Linked DNA regions of Homo sapiens: region 2 is linked to region 1. The links come from fine-mapping of genetic effects on gene expression. A gene starts in region 1. The other region holds a variant in brackets. All regions are shown on one strand. Distances are between the middles of the regions.

Evidence for each region.
Region 2: its variant is fine-mapped to the expression of PHF20L1 in blood mononuclear cells (TOPMed, PIP 0.97).

The regions. Positions count from the first base shown.
Region 1 is chr8:132,770,395-132,779,260 of GRCh38, reverse strand. PHF20L1 (PHD finger protein 20 like 1) reads right to left here and starts at 3,873. Exons shown (of 21, transcript NM_016018.5): 1 at 3,616-3,873; 2 at 1,350-1,469. The coding sequence starts at 1,432. It also overlaps a transcript of TMEM71 not described here. RefSeq lists a silencer at 3,439-3,888 and an enhancer at 3,643-4,144.
Region 2 is chr8:132,892,235-132,901,100 of GRCh38, reverse strand. TG (thyroglobulin) reads right to left here. Exons shown (of 48, transcript NM_003235.5): 11 at 7,172-7,411; 12 at 3,315-3,452; 13 at 2,855-2,932; 14 at 2,191-2,303; 15 at 762-864. Among named protein-coding and RNA genes, the nearest start is that of TG, 30 kb to the right of the region's middle. The variant A/T (reference allele first, on the strand shown) is at 4,087.

The DNA.
Region 1 (8,866 bases):
AGGAGAGATGCTACTGCCTAGTTCCCAGGTACTTCCCAAACCCCTCCTAAGAATTACCATGTACATTCTTCACCTAGTGACAGTATCGATTAACCTCCCCATCTCAAATTGTAGCTTCAAACTGTCCTAAAGTGGAGCTCAAAACAAGAGGTCATTAAGCTGGGGTCAGAGATATGTGCCAAGCTCTAACGCCAGATGTTAAAAGAGAGAAACCCCAGCCTGGTCTATACAGTCAAATATTATGACTAAACAAGATTTCTCTGCCTGCCATTGCCAACTCGGGAAGTTGACTTAATACAAATCAATCAAAAGTAAATCTACAAAATGCCCAGTATGGTTTTAAATCAGAGAAAATGTCAAAAAGTCTGGGAAAGTCCAAGAGCTGCTAAACAAGAACTCGCATCAAAATAAACGGGCTTCAGGAGGAGCAAAGGCAGCATCCCTCCCAGAAGCGGAACCCCTCTAATGCCCCTCTCAGGTTAGGAGCCTGCAAATGGCAACAAAAGACATCTGCCAAGACAGCAGAATGAGGGGCCAGTTAACCCAAATGAGGAATACGCTCCTTAGGAGAAAGGAGAATCCTCCTCATTCCTACTCTGGCCCAGGGACCCCTGCATGTAGCTTCCCCTTCTCTCCTTTCCAGATAGTAGTTTTATACCAATTCATCAACTTTTCCTAACCACTGTATAAAGGCTATGTTGGGAGGTGTTTAAATTTACCACTTACCACAATGGCCAGAATAGGGGGAGACACACAAGTTCTGAAAGGACAGCCTATTTTGCACTGGAGACAGTAACAACCTGCCTTTAGGTTAAGGCCCACCAGGGAAAATAGGAGGTTAAGTGTGATTTTGGTTTTAGGTGAGATAATGAATAGTGGAGATGTTTTTGAAAGTGTTCACTATGAAAAAATGCTATGCTAACCATTAATATACTCTGTAGTTTGAAAGACTACCACTGACAGACCAAAAATACCAATTTAAATCAAAATTTATCCAAAACATGAGAAGTTGGTTCTCTGGATTACTCCTCTCTCTACTTCCACCAATACAGCTCATGTGAGGTATACATGAGGTATACATAAACCGCATACTCTAGACAATTATTTTCATTTCTCAAACACCAAAAATGATTGTTCTAAATAATTTAGTCAGTTGACTAAAAATAGTTTTTAAATGCTAAACCTAAAAAGCCTAAAGAGTAGGAAAACTAAAAAACAACATATATGTGTAATCGAAATGTGAATACACTGATGTTTCTGCTACCATCAGTGGAATTTACTGTTTTAATTAACATATGTAAGGCTACAGATATTGTGATATTTAGGTGAAAGTTCTATATTTTCCATACCATTTTTGTAAGTAGTCCAGTGCCTCCAAACGAGCACCAATCTCAAAAGTGATTCCAGGGCGATTTGGGGGCTTTTTACTCATCTTGAGATCCTATTCTTCAGTATTCTCTTTTCACTACCTCAAGAGAAAGAAAAAAGTTAGATTCCAATGCAGAAAATGCATAGGAAGTAGAGTATAAGGGAACAGGTCAAATTAAAATTAAACAGAATTTCTAAAACAATACATGAGAATATGAAATACTTGCCAAATTGTTAAGAAATTTGAAGGAGTATTACCAACATCTCTATATAAAGTTCTGTGCAATCTGCAGGCAATCTTGATAATGATTTAAGAAAAAGAACAAAGAAAACTATCTAAAAAGAATGAGTAAATGGACTGTTAAAAATTGTTAATAGCTAAAAATGCTTTACATTTGAGCTTCCAGATACCCAAGAAAATTCTCCACGGGGAGAGCTGAAAATGCTTTCCTGCCTTTGAAAAATTAAGACAGCTGAGTGTTCTGGAATAGGACTACTGAAATTCTTGAGAACAAAATCAATTTTTAATTTCAACAAATATTTGTTGAGTGCCTCATAATACAAAACACTAGATAAGGCCCTACAGCACACAAAGATGGAGGAAACAGTAGGCACACTCCTCTGCCAGTGAAGATACCACTAATTCCTCTTGGGATTAGGATTTTTCATTACCCATGATCTCCCACCTTGGTAGCACATAATTCAATAATTTTAATTTAACATACAGTATTACAAAAGAGACTGCTTTCTTATACTTTACATTCAACAAGCAATAATAACATGCTTTTGTTAACTGAGTATTTCTACTATATTTCAATTTAGACAGTGTCCACATTGATAATAAAAGTGGTTGTAATGCTAGAACAAAAACTGCAAAGGAGTACCTATGTATCCCTAGGTCATTCACATGCAAAGTACTATATTTTGGGCCACAGTGGCCACCGAGCACACTTGAGGTGGCCTCTTTTTCACTAATGGGTATGTGAGGAATATGAATACATTTTGAGATAACCTAATCAAAACATAACTCATAATTAAGAATGTAAATTGATTGTTATCAGGGGCGAGGAGAGATCCGTAAAATGTCTTTCGGTATTTGAGATCACTAATGACTATGTTCCCTACAGTTTAAAAAGAAAAAAAGAAACACACACACTTGTCATCTTTTATAATGGTTTTGTCACAATTCATAATAGACAAAATAGAACAACAAACATAAAATTCCAACTGCTCCCTCTTTTCTCTTTGAAAGAGTCTGATAGGTAAGGGAAAAAATAGCATCAATACTGGCCATGAAAATATGCGAACTCAAATACCCATGGTTGGAGGGGGAGAGTGGGTATCCTCCTGCTATGGTATAAGCAAATATTAGAGCATTAAAAAGTTAACAGGGAGCTTGCCCAGGGTGTAGCTGGTGCAAAAGAACAAATGTATGAATATTTTTAATAGAGGTCTTGTCAGTGCGCAACACGTAAGGCAGTTACTTAAATGTTTGTGTAGAAATCGAATCAACCTTTTCTGCTGTCTGTCACAGGAAGAATTCAGTAAGGGATAGTTCACAAGGTACACTAACATCTAGAATCAAACTTAGAGCCCATAATTAAGTGATGGATTGAATGAGTATAATCCCCCAGTGACACTTAGGGATGAAGTACCAGAAAAAAAACAAGATTTTCCTTTGTCTTAGGTTCGAAGAGGGAAGGATGAAGAGGGATTTGAATTAAGGAACTTTCATAAAGTAAGACAGTCTACTGGGAGTAAAACTTGAAGCAAAAACAAGGCAGAAAGCACGGAGAGGAGTAAAAACAGTAAGGAAAGGAGCAAAGAATGGCAAGAAATAGGACAGTGGAAGTTTTCGGAGATGACAAGTTAGAGGGAAGAAGAAATGAGCAAGAAGACATAGAGACCGACAATGTAAAGCAATGGTCAGAGAATGACCGCCAGGCCAAAAAAGGTGAGGAGGTGAGGCCAGACAGAGAGGGGGTGGCACGAGACAGGCAGGAAAGGCTGACAGGGCTGGCAGGGAGCTGGAGAAGCCTCCAGGTTTGACAGCCATCCGGCCCTCCGCAGGGGGGTAAGGAAGGGAGGGGAAGAGGGAGCTGCGGCGCCCAGACAATAGGGCCGGCGAGTTACGGGGAGGGAGGCGGGAGGGGAGCGGGCCGGAAAGAGAGACACCAGAATGGGGGCGTCCCGGGCGGCCCGGCGGGGGCCAGGCGGCCTGCCGGCTCAGCCGCCGCCGCCTCTTACCGACTCGGCCTCCTCTCTGCACAGCAGCCGGGCCGTCCGGGGCCGAGCTGGGGCACGAGCAGGGCGGCCAGCCCGGGCCTCTGCCTCTGCCTCCGCCCAGGCAGCGGCCGGGGAGGGAGCAGGAGCGGAGCGAGCTGGGGCCGCAGCGCCGGATCCGCCCAAGGTTTCGCGGGAGGGAGCTGGGTCCGAGCCCTCAAGCTCGCTCAGGGTCCGCTGCCATCGCCGCCGCCGCCGCCGCCTCCGCCGCCGGCCAGCCCTGACGCGACGCCGGGCCCCGGCGACGTCAGCCGCCCGCGACGTGCCGGAAGCGGGCCTGGCCTTGTCACGTGACTCACGAGGGTTGGGCCCGGGCCGCGCAGCCGATTGGCGGGCCGCCGTAGGAGGCGGGGCTTTGCGGTCGTTGACGGACCGCTAGCGGGCGGGGCTCTGGTTACTGGAGGAAAGAACGCGAGCTCTTGGTGCCTATTGGTAGTTGTGAAGTATTTGACCTTTGAGATTTGAGGACGAAGGGCATTGTTTATTATTCTTGATTCGTTGGGAACCACGTCACCAAAACCCCTTTACCCAGGACCCTTGGCAAACTTTTTCAAATGCATTACATGCTTTCTTAGATATCCATCCCACTCCACATCAAGAATAGAGCATGGTTACTACTACAAAATCAATAAACCTCCCTTGAATGGATGCTTTGTGATAGACACTAGGCTGTAAATATGTCACATGACAATCACAACTGTACAACTGTATTACAATTGTATTGCTTTCCAGTCTTGGAGATCTTTACAATACAAAGACGAATATTACTAAGATGTGTGTACGCGCGTGCTCAGGCACAGCTGAATAACCTTAACCTATGGCTACATTGATATCACTTCCCCAAGACTACACAGCTAATGATAGCAGAACTGCTTTTATCGAATACCTACCCTCCCAAACTTTACTAAGCACAGGAGACAGTATCCTTGCTGTGGGGAGAAACCAATAAGTGAACACATTGAAAATAATATTGAAATGAAACATCTTTTTTCTCTTGGTTTCCACTGTACCACTCTGGTTTTCAAGTGCAACGTTGCATACAAATGTCACTTATATTTATCTTGCTTCATAGTGTGGAGTTAAAATAGCAAAGTAACTCTCTTTAAGCTTCAGTTATAGTAAGATTTGGTAAATTAAACAATCATTCTTTTTTTATTCAACAAACATTCATTCAGCATCTACTAAGTCACTAATAGCTACTGAGCTAGACTGAGCATGGTGATACATAGAAAAGATATAAATAAGACAGTCTCTAGTGGATATTTGTTATAGAAAAGATATAAATAAGACAGTCTCTAGTGGATATTTGTTATCTTGTTTTTTGGTTGCCCAGCATCTCAACTCTCTTTCCATGTTTGAGAAATTTCTCATCATGGTTGCATTAGTTCAGAACACCAAATACTTGTAGCATCTTCCTTAGGACATGACAGGATTATACTTTCCACCCTCCTTAGAATTATGTATGGCTATTTGATTTGCTTTGGCTGATAAAATGTAATTAGAAGTGAGATTTGTCATGGCCAGTTGGTAATTTTTAATGCCAGCTCACCAAAGTTTCTGTCTCTGGCACAGTGTAAAGCACTGCTTGAGATGATAGCTGCTCTACCATCCAGGTTCTAGACAGATTATGATGAACCAAGGCCTCACTGATAATCTACAACTACTGTGTTGTATAAGGAAAAAAATAAATATTTATTATTTTAACTATGGAGATTTGGGTGCTGGATTGTTTGTTACATGGCATAATCCTACCCAAACTAAATGATACATCCACCTTATGAATCTTGGATGCAGAATCAACCTCCCACTAAATAAGATGAAAATATCAGAAACTCATGTTTCCAGTCTCCCTTGCAGCTAAAGTTCTAGCCTCAAGTAAAACTCTTTTACCAAGGACTTTGTATCAGAAGTTGCTAATGATGTTCAAAATAAGGAAACTTTTCTCCCACATCTGTGGCAGTACCAGTATTCAAGTTTCTGATGGTCAGCCTGGAGTTAAATCTTTCTGAACTCTGGCAGAACCCCTGCTGAATCACAAGCTAGTGACTGAGAAAAAATAAATATCTATTATTATACACCACTAAAAACTTGAGGTTATTTGCAATTTAAATAAAATACATACATAAAGAACAACAGATTCTGTCCATTCTCCCAACTATTTGTTGAGAATCCACCCTGGAAAGATGATTGTTCCATTTTAATTGGAACTTGACAATGGGTCTTCCAATAATGACACTTGAAAGAAAAAAATAAAATAAGGTCTTATGTAAATGATCCCTAGCTTCAGTGAATTGTATAGGCTTAGTAATCCTCTGTGGAGTTAATACCGTCCCCTAGAGGGCACTTTGGAAATGGAGGATGGTATTTTATTGTCTCAGGATTGGGGTAGGGCACTGCTACTATTTAGTGGGAAGGGACCAGGGCTGCTAGATATCCTGAAATGCACAGTGCAGTTCCATACCTTGAAGAATTGCCCCAGGTCATGCATGACTTCTAGATGTCCTTCCAGACATTCATGTAGGTGAAAAACCTGTTTATAATTGTCCCTGCCTAGAACTGCATTTCACATATAAGTATTTTTGGAAGGTTTTAATATACATTAAATTTTACAGGAATGAAGCAACTGTGTAATGTAAGGAAACACTGACCTTTTTTCTGAACATTATCAAGAGTCTATCTCATTTTAAAATATCATGCCACCAACGGCTAATTACTCATAGTATTTGAGGCACTGATAGAATGCACCTGTGTCAGTCTAGTTGCGTAGCTGTTACATTTAGGGAAATCTAAATTTAGATACAAGCACCTCACTACTTCATTATATATTTCTGTGATACATGGATGAATGTTAAGTATTGAAATATATATGATTTTTATGAATTATTTTCATAAATTTTTTATATTATCATAGTCATATTGATTTTTAAGTATATATGTATAGCTTGGTTATGTTATTTATGAAGTTAATTTTGGGAAGTGGAGAGGGTGTGAATATAATATTGACTCTAAAAGGAAGGCACTAAGCCTGATAAAACTGACAAAAAATTCAGGTAGGATGTCATTTCCTCTTTTAACCACATAGAGTCAAAGGTCAGGATCAGAGTAGGGATACAGGATATACAAAATTCTAGTACTGACTCCCTGGCCATGTAGTGAAGCCGTGCATTGATCTGTCCCTTCTCCTCTCTTCCACCCAGCACACCCTGTTCCAGATGGTTGATGCCCAGCCATCAGTCACTCCATCTCCAAATATAGAAAGAAAGAACTTACAGCTGTGTTTGAGCAGAACCAAACAAGCAGTGAGCAAATTATCTTGAAACAACAGTTGTTAGGCAGAAATCACTGAACTAAATTCCTCCAACATTAAAAATATGAATATGGAACCATAATGTCTCCTGGAATATTTAACAAATGTATACCTATTTTAAGGTAGGAAAAAAAGTTACTACTAAATACCAGATACTCCTTGATTACAAATAAAACACAAGATAGCTATTTTTTGTGTGTTTACTTAATATTTACAATTAGCATTAGTAAAGAAAATCAAAGCAGTTCAAGTTTTTTTTAAGGTTAGTTTAGCAGAAACGTAAACTACTGTGATAGCCTCTGTCAAATCTCTTCATTCCATGTGCATAAAAATCTTTGAAAATAGCACTGACATCATTTTCCTCACCTGCCAAAGAGCTCACTTATCTTTCCTCTGTCACCATATCCCTTTATCAACTGAACAGAAATTATAGTTATTCCAGAATTAATCCCTGGCAATAGGAGCTCTAGGCCATGTATGAATTGGCAGAGATGTCATCTCTCCCAGTGTTCCCGCAGCATTTTTTTCACCTCTCTAATGTATTCCTCACTGTGATTCGTAGGTTTATATTCCACTTTCTTAGAATGAGCCAACTCTAAGGATGATAGGGTGTTCCAGATTACTTTAAACATACTTATATATACAAATAAAATAAAGAAATATGATGTTATTAAAGTAAATAATAATACATATATATTATAAATACAAAGTACATAATATTGAAGTAATATATATTACTTTGATATATATGTATATATGTAAGTTTATGTGTTACTCAGTTTACATGTTACTCAGAGCCACATGGATCTCTGAGATTTTTAAAACTTTTAGGCTTGGCAATAATGATTCTAAGATATCAAAGTCTCTGCTACTAAGGGTCATAAAATAGAAAAAATATGTATGTCTATTTCAGCAAATGCAGCAAGAGAGACAAAGAACTCTTTTGTGTGTGTGCAGATTACCATGAAGCAAGAGAGTGAACAGAAAATTTATCATCCAACCCTGAACACTTTTGAGAATGGAAGGAAGGGCTATTAATAATTATACCAGAATGACAGGTGGATCCTGGACAGTTCCAGACAAACGGAGATATCTGGTCATGACACATAAAGCAGGAAGAAATAATCATGAGAAATTAGTAAAGATTTTATAAATAGAAGTACATTGAATATGGAATCCACTCGTGATACTGCAAAGGATTTTCACATTTCTGATTTAGGACAAAGGATGGTCTCTGCTTCCTGCTGCTATGTGATACTTTGCACCTCTCCTGATTTTTATCATTGTTAACTAGTGTCTCTTGCATTAACTATATCAGTATTTCTCAAGCTTTGGTCTGCCAATTATCTGCATTATGGAGATGTGCATATGGCTCAGGGGCACTGTTTTAACAAGATGGTCTGTTAAAATGCAACACTGTTTGATAAAATTCAAGTTCCTGGGCCCTGATTTATATCTTAGGTTTGGGGACTGGAAATCTGCATTTTAGCAAGCTACCCTAAACAATTCATACGTACATGAAATATTCAGACCCGCAGTGTGTGAGGATTCTTTTTGTCGCATGTAACAGAAAATTTTATGAAAACAGGCTTAAGCAAAAAGGGAATTTTTCAGTTTGGGGAGTTAATAGAAGATAAGGAATAAGTCTGCCTTCTGTGTGAGTTTGATTCAGTGAAAAATTATAACATCTTTCACTCTACTTCTTAAGGTTTAGCTTGATTCTGGGGATCCCCAACAGCTTAAGACATTACAGCATCCTGGCGACCGTAAAAACAAATACTAGGAGTCTTTCTCTCACTGGCTGAGATAAAGTTAGGTGCCTAAATCTGAACCAAGTATGGTGGCCATGGGGATGACTTGTACTGATTCGGCTTAAACTGGGTTCCTATTCCTATCAGGCAGGTAAGC
Region 2 (8,866 bases), 120 kb before region 1:
GTACGTGAGCAGGTACAGTTCTGTGAAATAAAGGCAACAATAGTGCAGTGTAGGAGCCTACAGAGGAAGAGAGAGGCCAGCAGAGGCTTCCTGGAGGGACAGATGTGTGGTCTGAGCAAGAATTTGTCAGGTGGGGAGGGGATAGACGGACATATTGCAGGTGGCACAGCCAGAACGCGTGAAGGCACAGGTGGAAGAAAGCGTCTTCCTTTTTCCAAAGTCTGACCAGAATTTATCACAACTGCACCCTGAAGCACAACTGATGGAGAAGAAAGAGAAGTCGAAGAAGACACACCAGCACCAGATGCAAAGGGCCCTCGAGCCATTCCAGGGAGCTCAAGCACGGCCCCGAAGATGATGGGAGCATTTATGGTGTTTAGGCAGAAGAGGGACATCTGCACATTGCCCTTTGGGGACATCACCTGGGCTTCACTGCGGAAACCAGACGGCAGGGCCACACATCCGGCCAGCCCTCCAAAGCCCTAGGGCCCCCTTTGATGGGGATCAATGCTGGTTTGCACTTCTCAGACACAAAGCACAGCCTACTCCCTCCCACGTTTGCTTCTCCCAAGAAACTGCAGAGATGGGGGAATATTGCCCCGATTTCATAGATGAGAAAACTGAGGCATAGTGAGGTCAGCAGCTGTGCCCCCACAGCTATGGAAGCAGTAGAGCTGGGACACGAAGCCAGCTCTTTGGACTCCACGCTCAGTGCCCCACAGAAGAGGTGAGAAGCCATGCCAGGAGGGGCTGCTACTCACACTGGGCACTGCTGCTCGAGCCAGGCCGCAACTCTTCTCCTGATGCAGGGTCCACACACCAGGTGCCAGCCCCCGATGCCTGCAGCCTGGCATACTCTCCTGTCTGAGACAAAGCCGGGGTCATGTCAGTCACTGTGGGCAAGATGCTCTAGTGGCCAACCTGCTGCTGGCAGATGTCAAAAGTGTCCCTTCCAAAACAACAGGTGATGGCTTCTCCAGACGGAGAGATGTGGAGGTGGGGAGAGGTGCTCTCCTGTTCCCAGCCCTTTACGTGCATCATTTGATTGACGGCTACAACAGCCTCATGAGGCATGGACCACAGTTCTCCCGCTTTTGGGTGGGTGAAACTGAAGATCTCTCAGAGAGGGAAAGTGGGGCAACAACTCACAGCTGGTGAGTGAGAGGCAGGTCAGGTCCAGGCCCAAACCCATCTAGACCCAAAGCCTAGCCATGCTCCTGGACCAGCCTCACTAATTCCAGAAATGATTTTGACAAGTACTAGAGTCCTCCACAGGAACTGGCCTTGCAAACCACACCTCAGAGCGCCTCTAAGCTCCACTCTGTAATCCCTTCTCCCACCATCGGACATTGTGGCTTCTACCTCTCCTTCTCTCTGTGTAAGCATCAGTGCCCAGGAAGGAGAAGCAGAATTGCATTCCAACAGTAGGTGCTTTCCAGCCAAGATTAAAAAACTAAACAATAGTGACTAATTTCTCTATGAAACTATGCTTAAGTGGGTCCATGTTTACAGTACCAAACAATAATAAGGAAACTTTTGCTTAGTACTGTACAGTTTCATGAGTTTCAACACTGCTGTTTCATCTGCTTCTCATCAAGTCTTTGGAAGCTGAGCAGAGTGGGTGGTGGTGTTCCTACCATCCTATTTTAGAAAAAGGACACTAAGCCCAGAGATTTCCCTCACTTGGCAAGTAAGTGGTTAAGTTCTGGGCATAAATTCGTTCTCTAGGAGCTCTACATCAGTACTTCGCTGAATTATGAATTGTTACAATCACCCCGGGAGCTAGGGAGGGAAAGAAGCTGGTGTCCTCTGTGTGTGTTGAGAACCTGGGACACTGTAAGCATAGGGCCTTGGCCAAGATGCCTTTAGGAAAAACATGATAGCATGTTTTGTTTATTTTTCAAAGAGTTCTTATGAAAGATATTTTCTTGGAGTCTCAAAACAAACCTAGCATTAGCTAGGACAAAATGTGGCCTGATCTTATGATTAAACAAAACAAACTGGGACACAGAAAAGGTAAGTAAATAGCCCAAGGTCACAGAACCAGGTTCTAGCAGGCCCAGACAAACACCCAGGCTGAGAACATCATGTGAGCTTTTAACTAAGCTGAACGTATTGAACAAAAAGAAAAATCATCTCTGACCAGCGGGGACAAGTCCCGGCTCCAATCCTGTGCTTCCAGACCCTTACTTCTAGGCAGGCTGGGACGAACAGGTCTTTTGGAGATGGGTTTTCTTGGGATCTAGCCTGTTTCCAACTGGAAAGCAGCCCACTGGTTCGAGATTTCTCGCAGGTTGTCGGGCCTGTGGGAGAGAGAGGTGCTTGTAAAGGACTGGTCGTGGGAGCCAAGAGAAAGAGGGGATCCCAGGCTGACCCCACCTTTAAGGGTCATGAGCCTGGGTGAATGCAGGTGCTCTTCATAGAGAGGTAGAATCTCTGAGGACAAAGACTCATGTGGGACATGCCAGCTTTGAGATGTCAAGTGGACTGTGGATTACACATGGCTGAGCCTCAGAAGAGGGGTTGGGGCTGCAGGTTCAGAGGCGAGGCGGTTGCTGAAACTACAGGAGTGGCTGAAATTGCCCAGCAGATGTACAGAGGGGGAGAACCAGGGCTCCTTCAACAGTCTCAGCTGTTTCCTTCCACCTGCAAAGCTGGGAGCCTTCCAACTAGGAAGTGCCAAGGTCAGCGCAAGCTTGCAGGCCTGGGGACTTGGGAAATGCGTCTGGCTGCACCCGGGACCTGGCTGAAGGGCTGGGCCATGGAGTCTCCAGCGGTTAGGCAACCACAGCTGACTAGACCAGTGATGCCCACCAAGGGGGGTCAGGAGGAGAACTCTGCAGTCTTCACTTACACTGTGGAATCTGCAGAGAGCGGGCAGTCAGTGAGCCAGGGATGAACCCTCCTTTCTCATCTACACACCAGCAGTGCCCTGGAAAAGAGCCAAGGGGAGAACATTCAGGAATTGCACTAGGGACTTACCCTGGAGTGTCCCATAAACAACTTTCCTTCTTCACTCATAGCAGTGCAAGCCTGGTCGCCTTCTGTCCCCAGTCTAGACCCCCAGCCGGACATTGTCCACAATCACTCTGATGCCCCCAGCAACCACCCACTTGTCTTTCAGGCTGGTAGAAGTTTCCTGCTCCTGTTACACAAGTGAGATAACTGGAGGCCCGAGAAGCTAAGGAATTTTTCACCAGCTGCTAAAGAGGAGCCTAAGAGTCCAGCTCACTTGCCTCCCAGTGTGGGGCTCTGTCCTCTAAAATAAAAAAGGGGTGTCACTTGGCCACCTGAAGGTGCCTATCCCTCCTTACCAGTCCCAGCGTGGCACTGCACAGGCTCCCAACTTCCAAACGCATCACACTGTGGCATGTAGGGGCCCGACCGCAGAAGGGCGGATGCTCCAGCCGAGTCGTCCGGGGAAAAGCGGCGTCTCTGATAGAAGCTTAAGGCTGGAGTCAGGGAAGGAGAAAAGCAGAATATGACCACCTGCTCTGTGTGGGCTCTGTAGCTGAGAACAACCACGTATGTCCTGGTTCCAACATAAGGAGGCCTTCTTATTTATTTATTTGACAAACATTTCAACCCACAGTATTACAAAGGCTCCTTGCACAGTAGGCAGGCACTCAACAGATTGTCCTTTAAGAATAACACTTAGGCTGAAGCTTGAAAGAATATTATAGTAGACCTCTACAATAACTTCCATACAGAAATCAGTAGGTCAGTGAAGTGTCTTCAGGCACATGAGATAATAGTAATAATAGGTAGGCTCTATACTCATATGTTATGTGTGAGGCACTAGCTAAATACATACCTTAATTAATTTAATCCTCACAGCAATCTGAAGAAATGTCATGTTATCCCATTTAATGGATGAGAAAACTGAGACACAGATGGATTAAGCAACTTAACCAAGGGTTCACAGACAGAAAGAAGAGAGGTTGGCCTTGGAACACAGGAGGGCGATTGACATCAGCTGCCCTCGTAGGTTTCCCTACCAAACTCCTACAGTTTAGTTTTTAACCCCTTTGAAACTTGGATATCCACAAAAATCATATCAGATCTTCACAGCAGCTCCATGAAGCC[A/T]GAACTTTTACCCCAGGTGAGGACACAGAGGCTCAGCGAGGGAGGTTATATGATGAACCACTGGCCACCCCACTAATGAAACTGCATCTGTCCTCAGCTCTTGCAGTCCCCGACCCACTGGGCTTTGCACATGGCTTTCCCCACCACCAACATAGTACATAGTGTTCCCATTTATTGTGTTAGATTTGTCTCCTCCGCACTAGCATTTAAGCTCTTTGGTGCAGAGATTTGTGTTTATTTTGCATGTAGAGGAGTGTCTGGCTCATAGTAGGCACTCAAGAAATCACCGATTGGGAAAAAAGCGTGAATGAATGCATGAGGGGGAGAGGAAGAAGCAAGGGTGGGCAGCGGGTGGGACACACATCAGTTTGGTGTGGGTCTTACCAGGCCCAGTCTGATTTGCCACAACCACCACCCTCCTCCTAAGTGGCCATGAACTGTCGCCTGAGCTCTTTCTCCACTCCTGCTGGCACTTGGGGCAGGTTGGGGCTCCTCACCAGGATCCTGGAGGGAGAACGGGAATATCTGTGGCAGCACCATTGGCAGTCACCTGCAGTTCATTGGGACAGTTCTCCCCACTCCCCACCTTTCAGAAACAGGCTTCATGGCTCCAGACGAGAGAGCTTGCAGATACAAGGATGCCACCAACTCACAGTCAGAGCCCATCTGGGGACACCAGGACCGACCTCTGAAGCAGCCCCATACAGTGGACAGCGTTCTGGAGTCTGCCAGGCCTCCTTCTGAATCCCGGCACTGCGCCTCCTAACTGTGATCATGAGCAAGTTGCCCAACCTCTCTGAGCTTCAGTTTCCTCATCTATGGAATGGGTCTAACACTCACCTAACAAGACAACTGTGATATTTACATCAAAGGAGCTGATAGGTGTTAAACACCAAGTGCTTGCCAGACACAGCGGTGTGCATTTCCTCCCATGGCCTTCGCCACGCTCATTAGGCCCTCAGACATGGCTACCATGTTCTAGTGGCCAAAGGCACTTCGCTCTGGGCCCTCAATCCCCAGACTCTCAGGGAAAAGACCAGGCCTGGTCCTCTATGGTCCCTTCCTCTTTCCTCTACAAGCTCAGACATGCAAAGCGGAGCATGTGGCTACTTGGAGAGGAACTTCTCAGCTCGACTTCTGAAGAAAATGCCAACATGCCATTCAATGACTAATCTCAACAGCACCAGCAACATTGCCTCCCCTTTCTCGACATTTCCCTCCCTGACCAAAGTGGTCACAACTGAAGGAGCACCAATCCCACTTCTCTCTTTGATTACCTCAAATCCTGTCTTTGTACAAAAATGTAAAACAACATGGTTCTTCCCAAAAGCAGAAGTCTCCCAGTCTCTGAGGAACAGAGAAAAGCAGTGCCTAGGCATAGGGTGAGGGTAGTGGACGGAAGAGAGAGAAAGAAGGGAGGAAGAAAGCAATAAGGATGGTTAACCACCAGCTACTCAGCTCCTTGTAGGTGTCAGGCACTGTGCCACGCACCAGGGATATAGAAAGAATAAGACACAGTGCCTTGTTCTCCAAAAGAGATGTCTGGTGTGAGAGAGAAGCAGGAAACAAAGATGGCACACATGAGATTGTCACGTGGTATTAGGAGAACAAAGATCACTGAGACCCAATCCCACGCTGGCCATAGACACCCTGGAGTGCCTGCTGGCGTGGATGGGAAGGCAGGGAGCTGCCCTCCTGCTGGAGGGATTCTCTTTGACTTGGAGCAGATGTTGTCAGGGGAGGACTGTCTTGCTGTTTGGTGACTCAAGCCTAGAAAGCTAGACAGGGAATCAGCTGAGACCATTTGACAGGGATGGGGATCCTGAGTAAGATTCAAAGACAGATTAATCATTTGTCCTTGTCAAGTTGATGTGGGGTCAGTGAGAAATCTTGGAAGGGACCTGTTCTCCTGCCAGAGCAGCTGTGAGGTTATGGAGGAAGAACAAGGGCTCTAGGATGAGGCAGAGCTAGGCACTGACCTCAGCAATACCTGGAATCTGCCTGGCAGGGAACAGGAGAGATGAACTGGAGGACCAGGTCTCTGGGCTTCCCATCCAGGCCCACTGGTTATCACTTGTGTGAATTCGGGCAAGTGACTTAACCTCAGACTCCATTTCCCCATTTGCAAAGAATTGTGGATGGTGATTATACCATCATTCTCCTGGAGCTGTCAGAGGATTAAATGTGAAGATCTGATAATCTACTTAGCACAGTAAGTGCCTGCTCAAAGGTGAAGTTAGAATATTGTTTAGCTGGTTAAGGGCTGTGACTCATGCCTGTAATCCTGGCACTTTGGGAGGCCGAGGCAGACAGATCACTTGAAGTCACGGGTTCGAGACCAGCCTGGCCAACATGGTGAAATCCTGTTTCTACTAAAAATGTGCAAATATTAGCTGCATGTGGTGGCACACACCTGTAGTCCCAGCTACTCAGGTGGCTGAGGTGGGAGGATTGCTTGAGCCCAGGAGTTCGAGGCTGTGGTGAGCTATGATTGTGCCACTGCACCCCAGCCTGGGTGACAGAGCAAGACTCCGTCTCAAAAAAAAAAAAAAAGCATACTGTTCAGCTGTTATTATAGACCAGAGGACTGCAGGCTCCCTGAGCTTATGCCTCTGTCGCATGCAGGTAGTAATTCCTGCTTTTTGGAGTTACTCTCAGGATCAGATGAGATCAATGTGTCATAGTTACTTAATATCGAGGCTTCCTCTCCCCTCCTGCTGTGTGGTGTTCCTGAATCCCTGGAAATGGAGGGAAGCTTTGGAGCAGGCCGTAAGGGGTGTTTGAGCATTCACGGGCTTGGGTCCCTCGCATTTTAACAAGAATATTGGCTTTGTGGGAGCGGCAGGTGCCATCTGAAACCTGCCCTAGGGTAGATTCGCTGGAGAATTAAGGAGCATTTTAGAGATGCGTGCAGCATTCCAGCTTTGACTGGTGCCCCCAAACCACTTTGCCTTTTCCTTCCCAAGAACCCATCAGTCTGGGGAAGCCAAACCACAAAGTCCTAAGGATGACTGAGGAGAGACGAATTTAAGCTCCTGCTTTTCCAAAGCGATGCAGTAAGAAAGCTGAAGGGCACCACACTCACTAGACTGAGCCGCCAGGCGAATGGCGTAATCACTCCCACGCAGAAACTGCTCCGCGAAAGCCTCCCGGGGCGGGAAGAGCGGAGGAAGGCCGAGGTCCTCATTCCTCAGCCGGATTCCCTTGGCCACCAGGAAACTCTCCCCCAGAGGGAACCGAGAACTGTTGGAAGCTGAAACAATCTCTTCCGTTTCCCTAATGAACTGCAGTACACGGAGCTTTGCTTCCTCACAGGAGCCAGGACCTAGGGGAATAAAAATAACACAGATGGACTCACTCACCACGTGGACTTCCCTCTGACTCCCATGAAGCATGTGTGCCCTCACGCACACACATACACACCACACACACACCACACACACACACCACACACATACACACCACCCCCCTACACCACACACATACACACCACCCCCTCACACACACTGATACACACCACACACACACCACACCACACACATACACACCACCCCCCATACTACACACATACACACCACACACCACACACATACACACACCACACCACACACATACACACCACCCCCCCACACTACACACATATACACCACAGACACACCACACACACCTATACACACCATACACACAGTATGCACATACAGATCACATACACCACACGTACACATACACACACACCACCCCCGCAGACACCACACACATACACACCACACACATACACACACACCACATATACACACCACACACACATACACACCACACACACTCACATACACACCACACACACACCACACTCACCACACATACACACAAATACACACCACACACACACCCTCCACACATATACCACACACATACATGAACACCACACACATACACCACCCACACACATACACACACCACTCAAGACACATCACATACCATACACACATACCACACACACACACACCACCCACATACACACCATACACACAACCACACACATACACACCACACAGTACACACACATGCATACACACATCACACACAGTACACACACACCACACCACACACACATGCACACAGGCATACCACACACACATGCACACACGCATACCACACACACATACACCACACCACACACATACACACACACCACACACATAAACACACACACCACACTCATACACATACACACACACCTATGCACATACCACACACATAAGTGCACACACCATACACCCATATAGAAATACACAAACCCCATAAACACACACCACACACACATACATAAACACCCACCACAGCACACACATACACACACTACACAATACACACCCACACGTGAGCACATTTTTGCCTCAGCTGTTTTCTTCGCAGCAGCTCTTTCCACAACCTGGAATGTTCCTTGTTTTGCCTCCACACTCCCATTCAGTCACCATTTGTGGAGGAACCACTGCATAAGATGAGTAATAGCTCATACTCGCTCCATGCTGGGCATCATCCTGAGCACATCTACGCAGACAATCTAATTGATGCAACAGCCCAATAAAATATTCTTATTCTCATGCTACAGATGAGAAACTGAGGCATGGAGAAGTCATATAATTTAAACGAGTTCCCAGCTAGCAAGCAGCTGATTCAGAATTTCAATCTAGACAGTCTCACTCTGGGAATAGTGATCTTGACTAGCTGTCTCTAATGAAGGATAGGCAGATGATGGATGGATGGATGCATGGATAGA